2 separate regions of the Homo sapiens genome follow, and region 2 is linked to region 1. Evidence: fine-mapped expression QTL. A gene starts in region 1. The other region holds a variant in brackets. All regions are shown on one strand. Distances are between the middles of the regions. Region 1 holds the start of DERL1 (derlin 1). Region 2 overlaps DERL1 (derlin 1).

Region 1 (9,645 bases):
AAAATTAGAATCTTACTGTCCAGGAGAGAAGGAAATAAGGCATAAAGTATTGGCTGATAAATAAAAATTGGCAACTATTTTTTTTCCCATACCAACCACGTAGGAGGCAACTATTTTTGAATAGCTTATTTATCAGGCTACTTATTGGGTATTACAAACATTTTTCTATGTGTTCTACATACTAGAGGCAAGAAGTAGATAACATATTTCCTCAATTTGAAGGTACTCGTTCCTGTGTTTCTGAAATTAGAGTGTCTTACAATCAATACACTCGTTGAATGTAATTTCTACTCCCCTGTCCCCCAAAAAAGTTGCATTAAATTGATGGTGCATCGTATAATCAATGGAGTCTTAGAACAAAGTTAATATGCTATGATATTATCCTCAGATCCTAAAGAAATTGAGGCTCAGACAGGATAAATAACTTGCCTAAGGGTACACAACTAGCAGGGGACTGAGCCAGGCCTTGAGACCATGATTCAACTACTTGAAATCTAACAGCCTTTCTACTCGAATAGAAAAGGAAAAACAATTTGCTATGATTGATTTGGAAGAAATCACCTTCAAAAATGTTTTGCTACATACTTATTTTTTTCGTAGATATTATGCAAAGGAGTTAAACAAAACAGCTTAGAACTATCCTTGACTCAACGAAATAGAAACTGAAACTGAAGCTGTCTACAAAATGGGGGTAACACTTATCTCAGGATGACTGTCAGAGTTCAGTGACATGACCTCAGGGAAGTTGTAACAGGGTGATGTTATTTTGTCCAAAGAAATGAAGAAATATAGCCATGCAGGCGGCCCTGGGAGACATAACCTTAGAAAACACAAAGGCAGCAGGAATTGCCACCTCTTGTGTAGTTAATCAACGATTAATATGAAGACATTTCATTATTGTGAACTATTTGATTGATGAACATAAATCTGAGGGACTCAGAATAGGGAGAAATCGTAGACAACAGTATAATGAGTCTTAACACACACCTGTTTCAACCTATCCAAACTAAAGAAATAACATTATAAACCTCAGCGTTCTAAACCAACAAGCTACACACAAGAATCTAGAGCTGAGGAGGAAAAATAACTTGTCACTTCCAACATGAGCACACAATTCTAAATCAATCACTCCCCCATTTTTGTAAGTTGTGAAAGATTCAGCTTCTAAGGAAAAAAGGAACTTTCTAGCAGAACTCTGCTAAAGCACACCGCACACTGTCCGTGCACAGCAGCCTCTCAAATGCAGTTTTTCCTTGACTGCTTCATTTGCAAATGAGTTCCTCCAGGTGGGTCTGAAAGTTACATGTGTCCAAAATAGGCAAGAATCAGAGTAACAGGAAGAAAAGACAAGGTACAGCTGTTGGTCTTTTCACACCTGGGCAGTACACTGTCCTGCCTCCTGCTGGCAGCTGAGAAGAAATAATACAGGGAAGATGACAAAATTGTGGAAGATGTGACAAGAACGATTACTCTTTTTAATCAGTTCACCACTTTTAACCTTATACACCCGCAGCCTGTTAGGCTTATTTACATTGCTTCTTTACAATGTGCTTATTTACATCGTGTAGTCACTAGTGTCACTACACAAGTGAGGATTTTGCTAACAGGGACAACAAGCCGGTTTTGACCAGGTCCTTCTCACACATTAATATGCCACCATTGCTCCCCATGACCACACATTACCCAACAAGCCACCAGGGACAAAGTACACAACATTCTCTCAGCCAACAAATATTTAGTAAAGTAATAAACACAGAACAGTATGCAATTCCAGCTGCACTCCAGAGTCATGTTTTTATATCCAACTGCTCCCTTGGCCTCGCCACATGGATGCCTGAAAAGCATCTCAAGACTTAGCACAGCCAAAACCTAACTCTTCATCCATACCAGCCCCCACTCCCAACCCAGGTATCCCTGACCATTCCCCATCTCAGTCAAGGGCTCCGCCATCCACTCAGCTGCTCCTGTGAAAACAGTAGTATCTTTCAGTCCTGCTCGCTTCACCCATTCACTCTTTATATCCATTCGGCTGTAATCTCGTCCCCTCTGCCAAGTCTATGCCCTTTTCTCTATCTTCACAGCCACACTGATCCAAACCACCATCTCTCTGGCCTCCTAACTGGATTCATCTCTCTGATCTCATCACCTAGCCCTTCCTCCTTCAACCCCCTCCATACACACACAAAGTCCACTCCACAGAATAGTCGGGGCAATCTGTCAGTCCTTTGTTCACAAGGCTCCAAAGACTTCATAGTGCCCTCAAAATAAAGTTCAAACCTCTTAACATGACCTACAAGGCTCAACTATGATCTAGCTTTAACCCACCTTTCCATCTTAGCTTTACTACACCCAGCCCTGGCTATCTCCCTGCTGTCATCTACTAATCCTCACCCTACAGCTGACCCTGTGCCAGCTGGCAACCCAGTCTTCTTCCTGTTCCCAGCTCCTACTTCTGAGCCTTTCACTTACTAGTCCTTCCTGGAAGGTTGTCTCCAGAGCCAGATCTACCCAAAGCTGGCTGGCTGGCTCCTCAGTATTCCAATTTCTTCAAATGTCTTCTCTGAGGCCTTTCTGGGTGGAACACCCTATCAAATATTACACCCCTTAAAACACGTGCCTCTATGTCTTCACAGGCTCTGAAACCTTTTCAGTCCTATTTACTATTGTACCCCAGTGCCCAGCACACAGCAAGTGCCCAATTACTTCCAACAACTCAGTTAATATATAAGCACCTACTACGTCCCAGGCACTATTCCAGGTAACAAGGACAGTGGTGAACGGCTCTCATGGAGCCTTATTCTCTGAGGGGAAGCAGACTAATAAATACCAAAGGGTAATATGTAGCAAGAAAAATGAAGGATAAGGCCAGGCTCAGTGGCTCACGCCTCTAATCCCAGCACTTTGGGAGGCTGAGGCGGGTGGATCACCTGAGGTCAGGAGTTCAAGACCAGTCTGGCCAACATGGCGAAACCCCGTCTCTACTAAAATACAAAAATTAGCTGGGCATGGTGGTGTGCACCTGTAATTCCAGCTACTTGGGAGGCTGAGACAGGAGAACTGCTTGAACCCAGGAGACAGAGGTTGCAGTGAACCAAGATTGCGCCATATACACTCCAGCCTGGGCAACAGAGCGAGACTCCGTCTCCAAAAAAAAGAAAGAAAGAAAGAAAAATGAAGGATAAGGGATAAGGGAGTGGAGTGAAGGACGGGCTATTTTATGTACGGCCATCAGAGAAGGCCTTGTCAACAAGACGGCATTTGGGCAGAGATCTGAAGAAGGTTAGGAGGTAAACAACTGAGCCACGGTTATCTTCCTCAGGCAGAGAAACAACATGTGCAAAGGCCCTGAGGAGAGATCCAGATAAGCACTGAAGTAACAGCAAGGATCTCATTGTGGAGCCTAAGGTACAAGTTGGAGAGTAGTAGGAGATGAGGTCAGAGAAGCAGCAGGGGCCTTGCAGGCCACTGAAAGGACTTGGATTTTACTCATTAAGAAGACATGGTAGGATTCTGGACAGAGGAAAGACAGGACTTGATGTAGGTTTTAAAAGGATCACTCTAGCTGTCTAGAGAAAAGATGGAAAGGAACCAGATTGCAGTGATAATGGCTTGCAATGGAGAATGAAAAGGGATTGTATTCTGGATATATGTCTCAAGTAGAGTCAATAGGATTTGCTGACAGATTGTGGGGTGTGAGAAAAACAAGAAAAATAAAAGATGACTCCGACAATTAACTTCAGCTCCTCTAATAACGGAGTTGCTATTCACTTCTAAGGCAAAGGGGGAAAGGGGATTCAGTTTTGGACACGTTAAGATGAAGATGACTCTTAGTCATCCAAGTCGTGATTTCAAGTAACTGCTGGATGCACAAATCTGGAAATAGGGAGACAGATCTGGACTGAAGATATTTATATTTATATTTCAGAATCTCCAGTTTATAGAAAGTATGTAAAGCCCTGAGGCTGAATGAATGAGACCACCTAAAGCTAGGGAGAGTCTATAGAAAAGGTCCTATAACTGATTCCCAAGGCACATCCTAACATTTAAAAGTCAGGAAGATAAGGAACCAGCAAAGGAAACCAAGAAGTAACACCCAGTGAAGACAGGGAAAGACAAGAAAATGTTATCCATAGGCCAAGTAAAGGGCTGAAATTAATGCCAGATCTTGCTATCTGACCTGCCACTGATTGAAGTTTTAAATCAGAAATTGGTGAATACAGATAACCTTCAGAAAACTGGCACTCTCTTGACAGAAATGTTACTCTGGACTGTTTCCTTCATGCTTAAGAAAATAACAAGGCCTTCCATTTCTGGACAAATGTACTCTTTGCCCATTCCTTCGTACATTCTATTACTACGTGGGGGACACTAAATTAGGTCTAGAGGGAAATGCAGAACAATACACTCGTTCTTTGTATCTCTGACTTTAAATCACTCCTATAGGAAAACCAAAACAAAAAAACTCCATAAACGTGAAAGGAACTCAGCTATAAGTTGGTGAAGTTGACACCTACAGGCCACCCACGTGGGTGACAGAGGGAGGTCAGAGGGCAATGCTCCAGGCGGACCTAATCGCCAGCGTCCAACAGATTGACAACTACCAACGACTAATCTCACTGCTTCCTTCACTGAGTGCGAAGAGCGGGAAGCACAATCTCACTATACCAGTGAAGTCAACCCCTCCCCACCAGGCCAGCCCACAACTCCAGCTATCCAGCACCCCGCTCCAGATCCCAGAGCCTCCCCGGGCCCAAAGGACCCCGCCCTAAACCGCCGGCGCCGGACCCACTACAAATCCCAGCAGGCACCGCGCGCCCGCAACATGCCAGCCTACGCTTAGCCGCCGCTGGGCCTCCTGGGGCCTGTAGTCTCCACGCCCCCCGTCTCCGGTAAGTACCTGAAAGCGATAAAGGAAGGCTTCGGGCCAGAGGAAGAGGTAGGCCGGGCTGATGAGGCCGAGTTTGCCGACCAAGGGCACGGCGACGGTGGCGGCGAACCAATAGCGCGTGATCGCCGGGATGCTCCTGAACCAGTCTCCGATGTCCGACATCTTCGACCCACAGGTAGCCAAGATGCACAAGACCGCCCGACTCCCCGTGCCGACCCCCTCACGACGCGGCCGGCTCCGCGACTGTTAGGTGTCTAGGTGGAAGCCGCCGAAGCCGCGATGCAGAAGGCGGAGACGGGCGGACGTGGCGCCACCGAATTCGGACCAGCGAGGCAGCCTTCTGAGGCGAAACTTCCCCTTCCGGCGACCGCGGACGACGTGACCAGAAGTCCCGCCGCTTAAAGGGTAAGCGCCGATTTTACCGCCCGGCCGAGGCTCGGCGTCCTGGGGGGCGGAGCCAGGTAGAGCGACTACACGACTGGTGGGAAAACAGTGGTTGCCTGGATCAACGGCAAACGCTCCGGCCAGTGGCGAGGCCAAATGCCATTCACCTAGTTCTCAGAGTTTTAATGCGGCTGGGTCCACCTGGAGGGTATTTAAAGGGGACGAAGGCAAACGAAGTGTCTAGTTCCTCGTCTGCTTACTCATTCCACAAGTGTTTGTTGGGCACAGTTCTAGACACTGGGCAGCTGCGGCTGTCAGCGCTGTCGTGGTACCCTCTCTCCTGATCTTAACATCCTCATTGGGATAATTTATAAACAAATAGATAATGAAGTAAGATAATCTCAGAGAGTGATTAGAAAAATAGGAAAATGAAATGAGATGATGAGGTGGAGTGACGGGGTGGGGGTGCGGCAGTGTGAGGACAGATGGCTACCTTAGGTATGAACTGGGCCAGCCAGGCAAGAGATCTGGGGGAAGAATTTTCCATGCACAGAGAAAAGCCGCTCTAACTAGGTTGGAATGTTGGAGGAACTAAAAGCCAAAATGATCCATCTTGTCTAATTCAACTTGTATAAGAAGGAATCTTTAAGAAAAGATACTGGCCAGGCGCGGTGGCTCACGCCTGTAATCCCAGCACTTTGGGAGGCCGAGGCGGGCGGATCACGAGGTCAGGAGTTCGAGACCAGCCTGGCCAACATGATGAAACCCCGTCTCTACTAAAAATACAAAAATTAGCCGGGCATGGTGGAGGGCGCCTGTAGTCCCAGCTACTTGGGAGGCTGAGGCAGGAGAATCGCTTGAACCCGGGAGGTGGAGGTTACAGCGAGCCGAGATTGCACCATTGCACTCCAGCCTGGGGGACAAGAGCCAGACTCCATCTCAAAAAAAAGAAAAAAAGAAAAGATACTGAGTAGAGTTTCCCGTTGTTTTGGGATTTGGGGCCAGCAGTTTAAGATTGCTAAAGTCTTCCAATAAAGAGCACCAGGAACAAACCTGTAGTCAACAAAGTTAGATTTATTAACTTGCTGCAGCAAGGGAGACTGCACTCCAGAGGAACCTCAATGCCTCTCATCAAACGGAAGTGTCATTATTGGGTTATGGGAATGGGGGGATTTTTTGGTAAGAATTAACTGGAGCAGTGTTTGATAGACTCGAAGCAAAGCAGAGCTGTGTGCAGCATCAGGTTAACATCAGACCTGAGTAGGAAGCAGGCTCTTTCCTTGGAAATCTCAAAATTACGACAAATGTGAAACGTTGGGTCTGAAAACTCTATCTAAAGCTTTGTACCTGTATTGAAAATCCTGTGTCAAAGTGACCTGTATGGCTCAGATGCTCTGGACAAGAATGGGATGTTCCATTCACACGGAAAGGATGTCAGACAGCAGAGTTTCCAACATTCCATAATTTTAGAGAATATTTGTCAGCACCATATCCTTGATGTTAATTAATAAAAACAGTTTTTTCATAACAAAAAGGCATTAAATATTCCACAGTGTAATGAGAGTATACAACATTTGGGAACCAATGGATAGCAAATCTACGAAGAACACAGCTGGTGGGAATATAAATTGATACAGCCTTACAAAAAGATAATTTTGATATAAAAGCTAGATATTTATATAAATAACAGATAATACTTGACGATATTGCCTGAGGTTTATTCTGTTTATTTCCCTCTACTACCACCACCATTGTTTTGTACCCACTACTCATAACCAAGGTACAGTGAAAGAAAACAGGGGTTATCTGGCTTAGGTGGAGGGCTAAGGAAAGTTTCTCTGATAAACTTAAAAGTACACGTGCATGAGAAAAGACAAGAACAAGAAAAATGTACACCCAATATCTGGCAGTGTTTATTTCTTTTTTTTTTTTTTTTTTGAGACGGAGTCTTGCTCTGTCGCCCAGGCTGGAGTGCAGTGGCGGGATCTCGGCTCACTGCAAGCTCCGCCTCCCGGGTTCAAGCGATTCTGCTGCCACAGCCTCCCGAGTAGCTGAGACTACAGGCGTCCGCCAGCACGCCCGGCTAATTTTTTGTATTTTTAGTAGAGACGGGGTTTCACCGTGTTAGCCAAGATGGTCTCAATCTCCTGACCTCATGATCTGCCCGCCTCGGCCTCACAAAGTGCTGGGATTACAGGCGTGAGCCACCGCGCCCGGCCTGGCAGTGTTTATTTCTAAGTTGTGCTCTAGAATTCATAGTGAATGCTCTGGAATTCAACTTCGGCCTTTAGAAACACTGAAGTTTAAATCAGAGCAACGGTAGGCCAGGTATGTCTGGTCTTTTCTTGTAACTTTACATTCAAAGGCTTTCTGGCTGGTCCGATGGTAGTGATTTATCAGAACTTATTAACATTAGTGTCACTAAAGTTGGTATACAACCCCCCACTGCTAAATTTGACTGGCTTTTAAAAATATTTATTATTTTTAAATAATATTGAATATTTATTAAATTTATTATTAATTTATTAATAATATTATTTAAATAATTATTTTTTAAAGGCTTTCTCTTTCTACAAAGTCTTAATAATCATTTTAATGACTAATATTCTACTAGTGATGTGGCAGAATCTTTTGACCATTTTCCTATTTCTGATACCTGTTTTTAAATACTATATATAGTTCTATAATGAATACCTTTATGCATATACATTTTATACTAATAGCTAACTTTTTTATTTACTAATATCTAACATTTGCTGAGTGTCTACAGTTTGATTGGCACTCAGCTATGCCCTTTATGGGCATGGTTTTAATTAGTCTTTACAACAATGCTTCAACCCTATGAAGTACTTTTATTTCCATTTACAAATGAAGAAACAGCCTTAGAGAAGTTAAGTAACTTGGCACTTGCCGGCAGGTGCATATATAAAACTTCAACCCAGATCTATTTAAAGCCAAAGGTGGTGCTTTTTTTTTTCTTTTTTTTTCTTGAGACAGCGTCTCCCTCTCGCTTCTGTCACCCAGGCTGGAGTGCCAGTGGCGCAATCTCGGCTCACTGCAAACTCCGCCTCCTGGGTTCAAGCAATCCTCCTGCCTCAGCCTGCCAAGTAGCCAGAATTACAGGTGTCCACCACCATGCCTGGCTACTTTTTTGTATTTTTAGTAGAGACAGGGTTTCGCTATGTTGGCCAGGCTGGTTCCAAACCCCTGGCCTCAAGTGATCCACACACCTCGGCCTCCCAAAGCGCTGGGACTACAGGCATGAGCCACCACGCCCAGCCCAAAGGTGGTGCTCTTTCATTCATTTATTCAGCAATGCTTTTGTCCAGTGCTTGTTATATACCAATAACAGTTCTAAACAGTGAACTAAACTGACAATTATCTCCACCCTCTTGGAACTTACATTCTAGAGGAGGCAGAAAGACAACAGAAAGAGATAAAAGTAAGATGTACAGGCTGGGCGCGGTGGCTCACGCCTGTGATCCCAGCACTTTTGGGAGGCCAAGGTGGGCAGATCACCTGAGGTCAGGAGTTCGAGACCAGCCTGGCCAACATGGGGAAACCCCGTCTCTACTGAAAATACAAAAATTAACCGGGCATGGTGGCATGCGCCTGTAATCCCAGCTACTCAGGAGGCTGAGGCAGGAGAATCACTTGAACTCGGGAGGTGAAGTTTGCAGTGAGCTGAGATTGCGCCATTGCACTCCAGCCTGGGCAACAAGAGCGAAACTCCTCTCAAAAAAAAAAAAAAAAAAAGTAACATGTACAGTAGGTAAACTGGCAATAGGAATAGGAAAAGAAAAAAGAAGAAAAGGAGATTTGGGCTGGTGAGGGAAGGCCTCACTGCAAACTCAGAAGATATTGAGTACACGTCTCAGGGTGGTGAAAGAGCAAGCAGTGTGGAGATCTGGAGGAAGAACAGTTCAGATAGAAGGAATGGCAAAGACCTTGAGGTGGGAATGTGGCTGGCATGGAGACCTTAAACACGAAGACCCATGTGGCTGAGTGGAGCGAGAGTGGGGATGGAGGGTCAAGAGACAAAGGAAGGAGAGAGTCACTGGAATCATGGAGGACACTGTAGGTTATGGAAAGGACCTTGTATTTTACTGTTCTTACCCACTAGGCCACACTGCCTCTCGATCCTTTTGTTGAACTGATTTCCAGGAGTAGGATTTAAAATAAAAAGATATTAACAGCTCAATGACTTTTCCTCCCAGAGGTGGTGTGATTGTGAACCTAATCAAACTTAGGCTACAGGACCCCTCACTTGCACAGGCCTTTCCAAGGCTCTGTGCAAAACTTTGTAAATTTTTTTTTTTTTTGAGACAGAGTTTTCACTCTCTTGCCCAGGTTGCCCAGGCTGGCATGCAGTG
Region 2 (9,645 bases), 24 kb before region 1:
GTTTTGGTAAAATTATTCCAGAAACATAATCCAGACAAAATCAATAACGTCATCAGCTTCCTAACCATGTTTAAGAGGAATAACTTCATGAACATTTTGCCCTGAACTGAAGAGTTCTAAATACTTGTAAACCTTTAGGAAAAAATGACTGCTCGCAGGCAGCTGACTGGTAAGAGGGTACACCAGAGACTCCGGGTCACTCACTGTCAGAATATTCTTATACATACAATGAGTCTCCACGCCTGTACAATGAGTGTACGTGCAACATAATTGGAGTAATGGCCTCTAAAATTTTACAAGTAAACTTTATTGTGGCCACAGATGAACAACAAAACATGACAGTTAAGGTTCAGACTCTCCCCACCTATTTTATCATATAAATTAAATATGGAGAGGTACACACAAACTCTATTCAAAATGAGAAGTTGTTTGCCAACTCTCATTTCCTAGGATAACACACATCACACTGTTTAAGAGTGGGGGAAAGAATAGTCATACTGTTAGAGCACAATGTTTCCTGAAAAGAAACTGATCAAAACGTTTGAAGCCTTTTTAGTTGCCTCAAAGTGTGACAGCCACTCAATACTGCTCCTAACAGTCTGCTTTCAGATAACGTCATAAAATAAAATAACTGTGTGAAAAGCCATGGCCTTCAAAAAACTTTATTTGGTTATGAGCCAAGCTCTGATAGGAAAAGCCCACCTACGAAAAAAAGGTGTGGGTATTTAAGCTGGTCTGATTCACAGAGCTTGTACATTCATGACTCAAAATAACACACCCTCAAACCCAAATGATTCTAAAGCCATTTCAACCTTAAATCATGTTATTCCCTTAGATGTGCTTACATTAGCTTTAAAAAATGATCTACGTGCAGAGAGGAGCTGCGCCTTCCTCACAATTAATTGAAACATGACCAAAAAACGGGGGATAGGCAAAAAAGTGACATTTAAATAGCGTATGAGGGTCTCTCCTCCTTTACTCAATGAACACATATCCAGAATGAGATTGAAATGGAATCAATGCCCAGGAGCCTCTCAAAGAGAGCATCTCCCTGTAGCCAACATGATCTGGATCCTCCTAACACAAAGCAACCCAACTACTCCAGCTACACAAAGCCAGTAGGCCTACATATGAAACGCAAAGGGGTTGCATCCCCCATGGTTTAAACCTAACCCATGTTAGCTGCAACTCCACTACAGTCTTGATCACTTAGCTCAGGAAACAAACACCCAGCAACAACCCTCGTATCTCATTAATACCAATCTGTGGCCCTCACTGACTCAGTGGTACTTTTTTATAAAAATATCTGAAGAAGTGGCAAACGGTTACAACGGATGTCAGGTCGAAGCAATTCCAAAAGCTGAGAAAACGCTTCATCCGCTGCTTGTCTTCTCCCCCTATTGCTACAGTTCTGCCACCAAAGGGGGAAAATTACGTGAATATGATTGTTGTGACCAAGCCTTGGCAAAAGTCAATAAATAACAGAACCTGTCAAGGGCAGAGCAATTTTATGGGCAACCTCTTCTAGTTGCAAATGTGGGGGTTGGGAAAAGTGGGAGAGAGGCATGTGTGCAAGAAAGAGATAAGGGTCCTTTTGGGAAGGGTTTGGTGACCCAGCCCCAGCTCAATGCCAGCAGACTAGGACCCGCTAAAACCCATTATTCAGACGGAAAGGGGAGAAGAGAAGACACCAAAAAATGTAGTCAGTTTTGCAATTTGCACAGTTGGTATTTGTTCTTCACAGCAGTAAGGACTTGAATGAGAATCGTGAAACTTGTGGAACACTTATATTTTTCTTCGGGATTTAAGAAACTTTGTCTCGTACTGAAAGACTACATTCAGTGTGGGTCAGGTCCAACAGTGTTAGCCAGAACGCAGTTGTTAAGTGCACCCAGCACTGGGAGGAAATGTGGCTTGAGAGGAGCGGCTGCCCGAGGCCGCCCCTTCACTGGTCTCCAAGTCGAAAGCCCTGGCCCCAGTTGTGTCTCCCGCCTCCGCCATTCTGATCAGCAGCTCGCCTCATGCTAGCAGGGGGCACACCAAATCCTGATACTCCTCCTCTCCTACTGGGCAGCCAGCGGTACCTGGTGCAGAAAGACGGGGACACAAACGGAGAGAAGAGAACAAAGTCACTTCCACATAGTTATCTGACCTCCGAGAACACCTCCCTCTCCTGCTGTTCCCATGGCACTTGTCATGTTGAAGGCAGCGAGGGACGTCTTATTTAACTTTGTCTTTTCTGTACTCAGCCCCATGACCTGACCACAGACGGCATTCGTTTTTCATGTTTCTTAAATGTATTCAGATTTCAGCTAAATTCACACTCTGAACGTTTTTTTCTCTGCTTATAAAAGTAATCCATGCAGAACAGTATGGAAACAAAAATATTACACCCACAAGCCCAGCAACCAAAGAATGACTGATAGCATCTTGGTATATCTAAATATGGCTCAAACTGGATCAAAGGATACAAAATACATTCACTTTCAAAGGCCAAATCCACAGCCTGCATGTTTGAGCCTTGCACAGCATTTCTAAAAGGCTCTCAGCTGAGCCCATCAAAGGAGACAGGGGAAGAAGGCTTTCTATGTTGGAAGTATGGGTATGTTTTAAAATTTATTCAGAATCTGCCTTCCAGGTACATTCTTCCCTTCTCACAGATGGTGGGAGAGCTGGGGCCCCAGACGGTTAGATGATTTCCCACCTTAAAATTAATAAACTAAGAGTTCACAGAACAGCTAAGAGAACTTAAACCCAAGCCTACACTCTCAATAGTATTTTCCAACTATTTCCCATCTTTGACTCTTTTATTAGTAAACTGAGAATGTGTTTAAACCTATTCCACTTAGCAGATCCTAATGTTTAAAATTTTGCTTGAAGGCAGAGAGCATGATCTGATACCTCCGCTTAAACCCTTCTTGGCAGCAAGAGTAAGTCATGACAGGTGACTTGTCCACAGCAGAAACCCTGAAGAGGACAGGCTTTATACTTGACCTTATACTAGAGCAGTTACTATGTGAATTTACTCAGTGATTATTGCCTTACACTAGGTGCTGCCTGCTTATAAATTCATCTGATCTTCACAATAACCCCATGAGGTAGGCATTACTATTACTCCTGTTTTATAAACAAGAAAATTGAGCCAACACTGAGTGAAGCGCTTCGAAAGTGACAGGATTCCAACCTAGTCAGCCTGGTTCCAGAGCCTGCGCCCTGCACTACTTGTTATACTACATGCATCCTGCCTGGGAAGGGACAGCAGTCAGTGACTGGAGTCTGTTTACATCATACTCGATACCTTCATGCCTCTTCCCAAAACAGACAACAACTCGGGTTTTTGTTTTTTTGTTTTTTTTTGAGACGGAGTCTCACTCTGTCACCAGGCTGGAGTGCAGTAGCATGATCTCAGCTCACTGCAACCTCCACCTCCCGGGTTCAAGCAATTCTCCTGCCTCAGCCTCCCGAGTAGCTGGGACAACAGGCGCCCGCTACCATGTCCAGCTAATTTTTGTATTTTTAGTGGAGCCAGGGTTTCACCATGTTAGCCAGGATGGTCTCGATCTCCTGACCTCGTGATCCACCCGTCGGCCTCCCAAAATGCTGGGATTACCGACGTGAGCAACCACGCCTGGCCAAAAACCCCTTTTAAACACAAAATTTAGTGTGTACAGAGAAGATATAACTACTCTAAATGGAATGGAAAATGGTGATACAAATGTATCAGCATTCCATTTAGAAAAGCAGTTATACCTTCCTATACTCACCTCCTCCATTTTAAACAAATACAGCTTTACCATTAAATCAAAATGTATTTTCCAAGTGCTGGTTTCTCAACATCCATGCCTTCTGGTACAATAATATTCCTCCAAAGTACATAATAAAATAGAACACTTGCTGGAGAAAATGCTAGGGCTGTCTTGCTTTGCTACTCACTCTAAGACAATATGGAAGCCATCTCCACTGCTTAAGTAGATAGTGAAATTAAATGCAAATAATTAGTATAAAAAGATACCCAATTATACATAATCAACAAAAATTTATGGTAATTTCAAAGCAGTTACTGCTTTTGCAAGGAGCTGTATTTTGTCATCTGATCTTTATGCAAAATTTAGCAGAAGGACTTCCCCCAACAGAGAAAGTTCAAGTGGAAGGCAGGCTCCAGGGCTCGCTGATTTTGCCACTAGAATCTTGTATCCTGTGTTGCCCACAACTGAGAAGTAGCTACAAGCCGTTAAGTTAGAATATGGCCATTTAAAGTAAAGTAACTGTTGGCTGCCCCCCAAAAGCACCAAGCTTTTTTTAATTGATGCATCTGCCATCCTACTTGATAAACCTAGATCAGAAAGCCAAACCTGCTGTTATTATGTCCTTTGATAATTAGAAACCAGATTGGTCATTTGTTTTTTTAGCCTGAAGGCAATTCAAGGCTCAGAAGAGAAACAAGTTTCTTTTTATTCTCTTAAAGAAAAACACACACACCACAACCACCAATATGGTATATCTCTGTATATTACAGTTCACAATTTGAAAAGTCTTTGAAAAACATACCCCTACCCTATAAAAGGAAGGGGAGAAAGAGGAGGCCTGCTCAAGTTTTACTGCCCTCACTGATCCCTTAGAGGAATGACAGAACTGCAAAACATTAAAATTAGCAAGATGTGGAAGGGTTTGGTTTGTTTGTTTTTTTAAAGCTTTCAAATGCAAGCTATTACTGCATATCCCTGATATGAGATTAGGCATGATTGTCAGGCAGGCTGTGACACCCAGATGGTGATTTAACTGGCCCGTTCTTCGACAGCCTTTTGCCTCACTGACAGAACGGTCACACGACTATTACATGCTTCTGGGTGTGTGCGCGTCTCCTCTCAGATCGTCAAAATCCTGCTCTCCTACCCCCACCTTTAGGAATATGGCAGCTAGCTTTACTTACCGAGAACCCGCTACTGTGCTTCCCAACAGTGTATCTTACCTCATGCAGTCCTGTGAGACAGGGGCTTCTCCCACAATTTACAGGCTTGCAAACTGAAGCTTGGAGGTTTGATTAAGTAACTTT[C/T]CCAGTATAAAAACTGCTATCTGAGGGGACTGGGATTCAAATCCAAGTTTGTCTCAAAAATCAAAGCTGTTGCCCTTACCAGCCCACTTCAGTAAACCCTAAAAGCAGATAAAGAGCACAAACTCCCAGGGGGTTGGGCCTATACAAACCTCAAGTCTCTCATTTTAACTCTGAACAGTCCTGTAAAATGTCTACTCCATAGTATTTAATATAAAAATGTTTAAAATTGCTGACCAACACGCTAACTTACCCTTCCTTGGGCAAAATCATGGGTAAAAACTGATGGGCCAAGAAAAGACACCCCACTAACCTGTGACTCTGCCCATTCACCAGCCTACTGTTTCGCACTCTGGAGTTGCATCAGGTCCCTCAGCAGGCTCAGAGAGCTGAGATGCCTCCTGTAATGTTGGAATCTAGTTGTCAGTGGTCCCTGGCTAAAAGAGTAACAGGAAGGCAACTGAGCCTAAGCTTTAATCCCTAACTTCCTGTGACTGTGTGACTAGGGTAAGTCACTTGTTGCCTCAGGTTTCTCCAGCAGATGGGGCATAGGGGTAAATCATACTCCTCATGGAGCTCTCATTAGGATGCACTAAGAACACAGGCAGTAAAATGTTAGATGAGACAGGACAAAAACACTTACAAAAACTGAGGTGTGGATAGAAAATTTCTTCCTCCCAAGTCCATTGGGTATCTGAACATTAGGAAAAAATAAAGATGTCCAACCAGATTTCCAATAAGCTCATTGATTACCCTGCAAAGAGAGCCAAATGAGTTTAAAGACATTCAAGCAATAGAGATGCACCAAGTTTTAACTAATAGCATAAGGAAGAGAGCCTTCAAGGCAGCCCATTTAGTCCCTGGGAGTCTGTGAGAGCTGACAATGAGCACTTTTGTAGTCTGAGTGGCAAATGCATTCTGAGGGAGACGGGAAATCAGTCCTGCTGAACCAATGAGGCCTGCCACTCTTCAAGGCCAGCAGCCCCTCTGACCTCTCTTTCAAGCACCAGCCCATCCTCAAAATATTGTTTTTGCTACTTCCTGCCTCAAGAGTTGGGGAAGTTGCAAAGCATGCTTCTGAATGCTTTCAGTCATGAATATTGTATTTATAAAATGTGGGCAAACATGAAGGCTACCAAGAGAGAAGCGTGGGAGTAAGGAAAAGAGGAACAATAAATGCCTGTTCCCCCTTTCCTGGAGCCATTAAGCACTTCTCCCTTGCCTCTTGTATCCTTGAGTGTAAGACACCACAGAGATCACTTAGGAAAGCCGACTTGCACCCTGAAATCAACGCTGACCTTCTTCAGTTTTCCCTTGGCTTACATACAGGTCACCTCAAGAGTGTATAGATCTACTGTTACTATTACAAATCCTCTTTGTCTTCACCTGCAACATGATTCCCGTCAGGGGCAAATCAACACCTGCAACTACTTCAGACTTCACCTTCCTGGGTGGAAGAGCAGCTTTGCCAAGTTCAGAACATGCTTTGCTCTAAACAGTCTGCTCCATCCATTCACTTCTCCCCAGCAATATGCAGAAGAAGTTAGGATCACACAGAGCAAATATGTCAGACACATGAAGAACCAGCAATATAAAAATGGATTGAAATATTAAAAGTAGTTTGTAGTATAAGAAATGGGAGTTCTGGCTGGGTGCAGTGGCTCATGCCTGCAATCCCAGCACTTTGGGAGGCCAAGGTGAGCGGATCATTTGAGGTCAGAAGTTTGAGACCAGCCTGGGCAACACAGCGAAACCTCATCTCTACAAAAAATACAAAAATTAGCTGGGTGTGGTGGTGCACACCTGTAATCCCATCTACTCGGGAAGCTGAGGCATGAGAATTGCTTGAACCTGGGAAGCAGAGGTTGCAGTGAGCCAAGATCACGCCACTGCACTCCAACCTCGGTGACAGAGCCAGACCCCATCTTGAAAAAATAAATAAGTAAATAAATAAACAGAAAAAATGAAGAAATGGGAGTTCTTAGAGAAGTTGCATCTTGGTATCCTCCCTTTAAAATTCTGACTGGATAAATTAAAGCTATTCCTATGTCTAGCTCTAATTCCTGACCAATAGACTAGATATTTGACCCTGGTTGGCCAAAAGTTCTGTATTATCATCCAGGCATGGTGGCTCATGCCTGAAATCCCAGCACTTTAGGAGGCCAAGGCAGGCAGATCATTTGAGGTCAGGAGTTTGAGACCAGCCTGGCAAACATGGCAAAACCCCATCTCTACTAAAAATCCCAAAAAAAAAAAAAAAAAAAAATAGCCGGGCATGGAGGCGGGCGCCTGTAATCCCAGCTACTCGGGAGGCTGAGGTAGGAGAATTGCTTGAACCCATGAGGCAGAGGTTACAATGAGCCAAGATCGCACCATTGCACTCCAGCCTGGGCAACAAAAGTGAAACTTCGTCTCAAAAAAAAAAAAAAAAAAGTTCTGTATCATCAAACCACTTGCAAAATTATATCCTATCTAAGAATCTGGATTTCTATGACCGATAGGCAGTTTCCAAGGCATTCTGGAAATGCCTTAAGAATATAAGACATAGTAATTTTATACATAGCTCTTAGAGGAGCCAACTCAGACAAAAATTAGGTCTCTGTTTGCCCAATCAGAATAGTGAATCCAGAAATACATATTTATTCCTGTACTATACACATAGGAACATACTGTGTGTAACAATAAGTTAACAAAATCACAACCATTCAAGGTTAAATATGCTTAAAGCCCTGCAATCTAATCAATTCAATCGAAGTGAAATTATTCCATAAATATAGGGTTCTAATGCGTCAATGTTGAGATTCTTTAAAGTTGTATAAAGGTTAGAGAAAGATAAAAACTAATGGAAATTTTCCAAGGATTAGTTTCCAATTAAATAAATCTAATATCACTTACGAGCCTCCGATGATATAGTTGAATCCAAGGATAACCCAGGGTAAATAGCAGGCCTAGGATGGAATGAATATATGCAAATGTGAGTAGCCACACCTGACGAGGACACAGCTACTACGGGGACTAAAGTGGGTAAGGATACACTGACAAGGGCTTTATATAAATCCTCTGGAAGGTCACTGCAAAATTTCTAGGATCAATCTAGCATTATTCCCACTATACTTAAACCTTCCTATCTAAAACTAGACTTAATTGTGTATTTGTAACTGGAAGGACACAGTACTTTGCCCACAGGTCTGATGCAATACAGGCCCTGCTGAACTGCTATAAACAGACAGCTTCAAAAAGCAGATGAGTGTCCTACAGATGCTACTAAAAGCAAGGCCCATGAGAGAATCACACTAAGATTCCAGCCAACAAATTGCTACAAATAAAATAAACATACCCCATCTTTTTAGGTTCTTCTTTTACATATCTTGCAAAATTCCTCTGAATTTTTATCTCATTATGCATTGATATCTTAAACTAATACTCTCCCAAATAAGAAAGCTCTCCAGATGAACTCAACATTTGAGCCCCTTACCAAATCCAAGACATCATACCAAGAGCTAAAGGAGTTGCAAGAAACTTCACAAACTAGGAAAGAGAGGGTTATACTCAAATAACTTTACAGCTACATGTGCTAAGTACTAAAGAGAAACACAAAGTATTGAAAAAGCCCAAACGTAAGACTAATTCTAGGCAGGAGATTCAGGAAATATGTTCAGTTCCAACTCAAATTAAGAATGGGTAGGATTTATACAAAGAAGAGAATCAAGATGTTACAGGTGGAAAATTGTGAAAGAATGTACAAAGAGAAGTGTTTGGGGGCAAAAACAATCTGTTTCAGCTACAGTATAAAGCAAATAACAGGGAACGAGGGAGGGATAAGAACAGATTTTTAAAGCAGGGTTTCACATGAGTTATCTCTCCTTCTCTCTAACACAGACACATAAGATCACTCAGGGACATAACCTTGAGGGGCCCGAGGTACAGAGGGAGTGAAGAAACAAAGGCCAGCAACGGACTCCAGGCTGGCTAATTAAATAGAGCTGGGATTGAGGAGGGCAGAAAGGGGCTTGCCTATGGTACACTGCTCTGCAGTGACCCCTTCTGGATGAGTCAGAAAGTACATCTCTGGACTGAAGAGGGATTTCTGCAGACAAATGAAAAGGACACTTTTCCAACCAAGGCAAAGTACCTTAAATCGTGTTCCAAACCAAAATGATACAATCATGTCTCTGTTCAGCTGGGCCCAGACATAAAGTACTGACATGATCAGAGGAATCATCAGCAACTGCAAAAGAAGTCGACATGTAAAAACCAGGCTCCAGAGGCACTTAAAAAAGGTGTACATCTACTATGCTTTTTACCCCTCCTCTTCACAACAATCCTCACCTGGGTAAAGGGAAACTCAACTGATCAGAATTATAAATTGATCCTATTATTTATCATACAATAAATATTACAAAATCCTATAATAAAATACAACAAAACTATATTATTTTAGATGGATTCAGAAATGTAAGAGTCAAGCTCTGTTATTTACAAAAAGTAAGCAACAAAGCATTACCATATAATCTCAATTTTTAAAAAACATCCATATACATGCCTAGAAAATACTAGACAACCACTGTTGTCACATGCCTAGAAAATACTAGACA

The links. PIP is the estimated chance that this variant, and not a neighbour inherited with it, causes the effect.
Region 2: its variant is fine-mapped to the expression of DERL1 in whole blood (TOPMed, PIP above 0.99).

Annotation. Positions count from the first base shown.
Region 1 is chr8:123,037,073-123,046,717 of GRCh38, forward strand. DERL1 (derlin 1) reads right to left here and starts at 5,230. Exons shown (of 8, transcript NM_024295.6): 1 at 4,898-5,230. The coding sequence starts at 5,050. It also overlaps the pseudogene RNY4P5. RefSeq lists enhancers at 591-720, 4,640-5,179.
Region 2 is chr8:123,013,502-123,023,146 of GRCh38, forward strand. It overlaps DERL1 (derlin 1), which reads right to left. Exons shown (of 8, transcript NM_024295.6): 5 at 9,183-9,278; 6 at 7,946-7,998; 7 at 5,694-5,804; 8 at 1-2,084. The coding sequence ends at 1,946. All of the region lies in intron 1 of LOC124902013 (a long non-coding RNA gene), which reads left to right. Among named protein-coding and RNA genes, the nearest start is that of DERL1, 24 kb to the right of the region's middle. The variant C/T (reference allele first, on the strand shown) is at 5,054.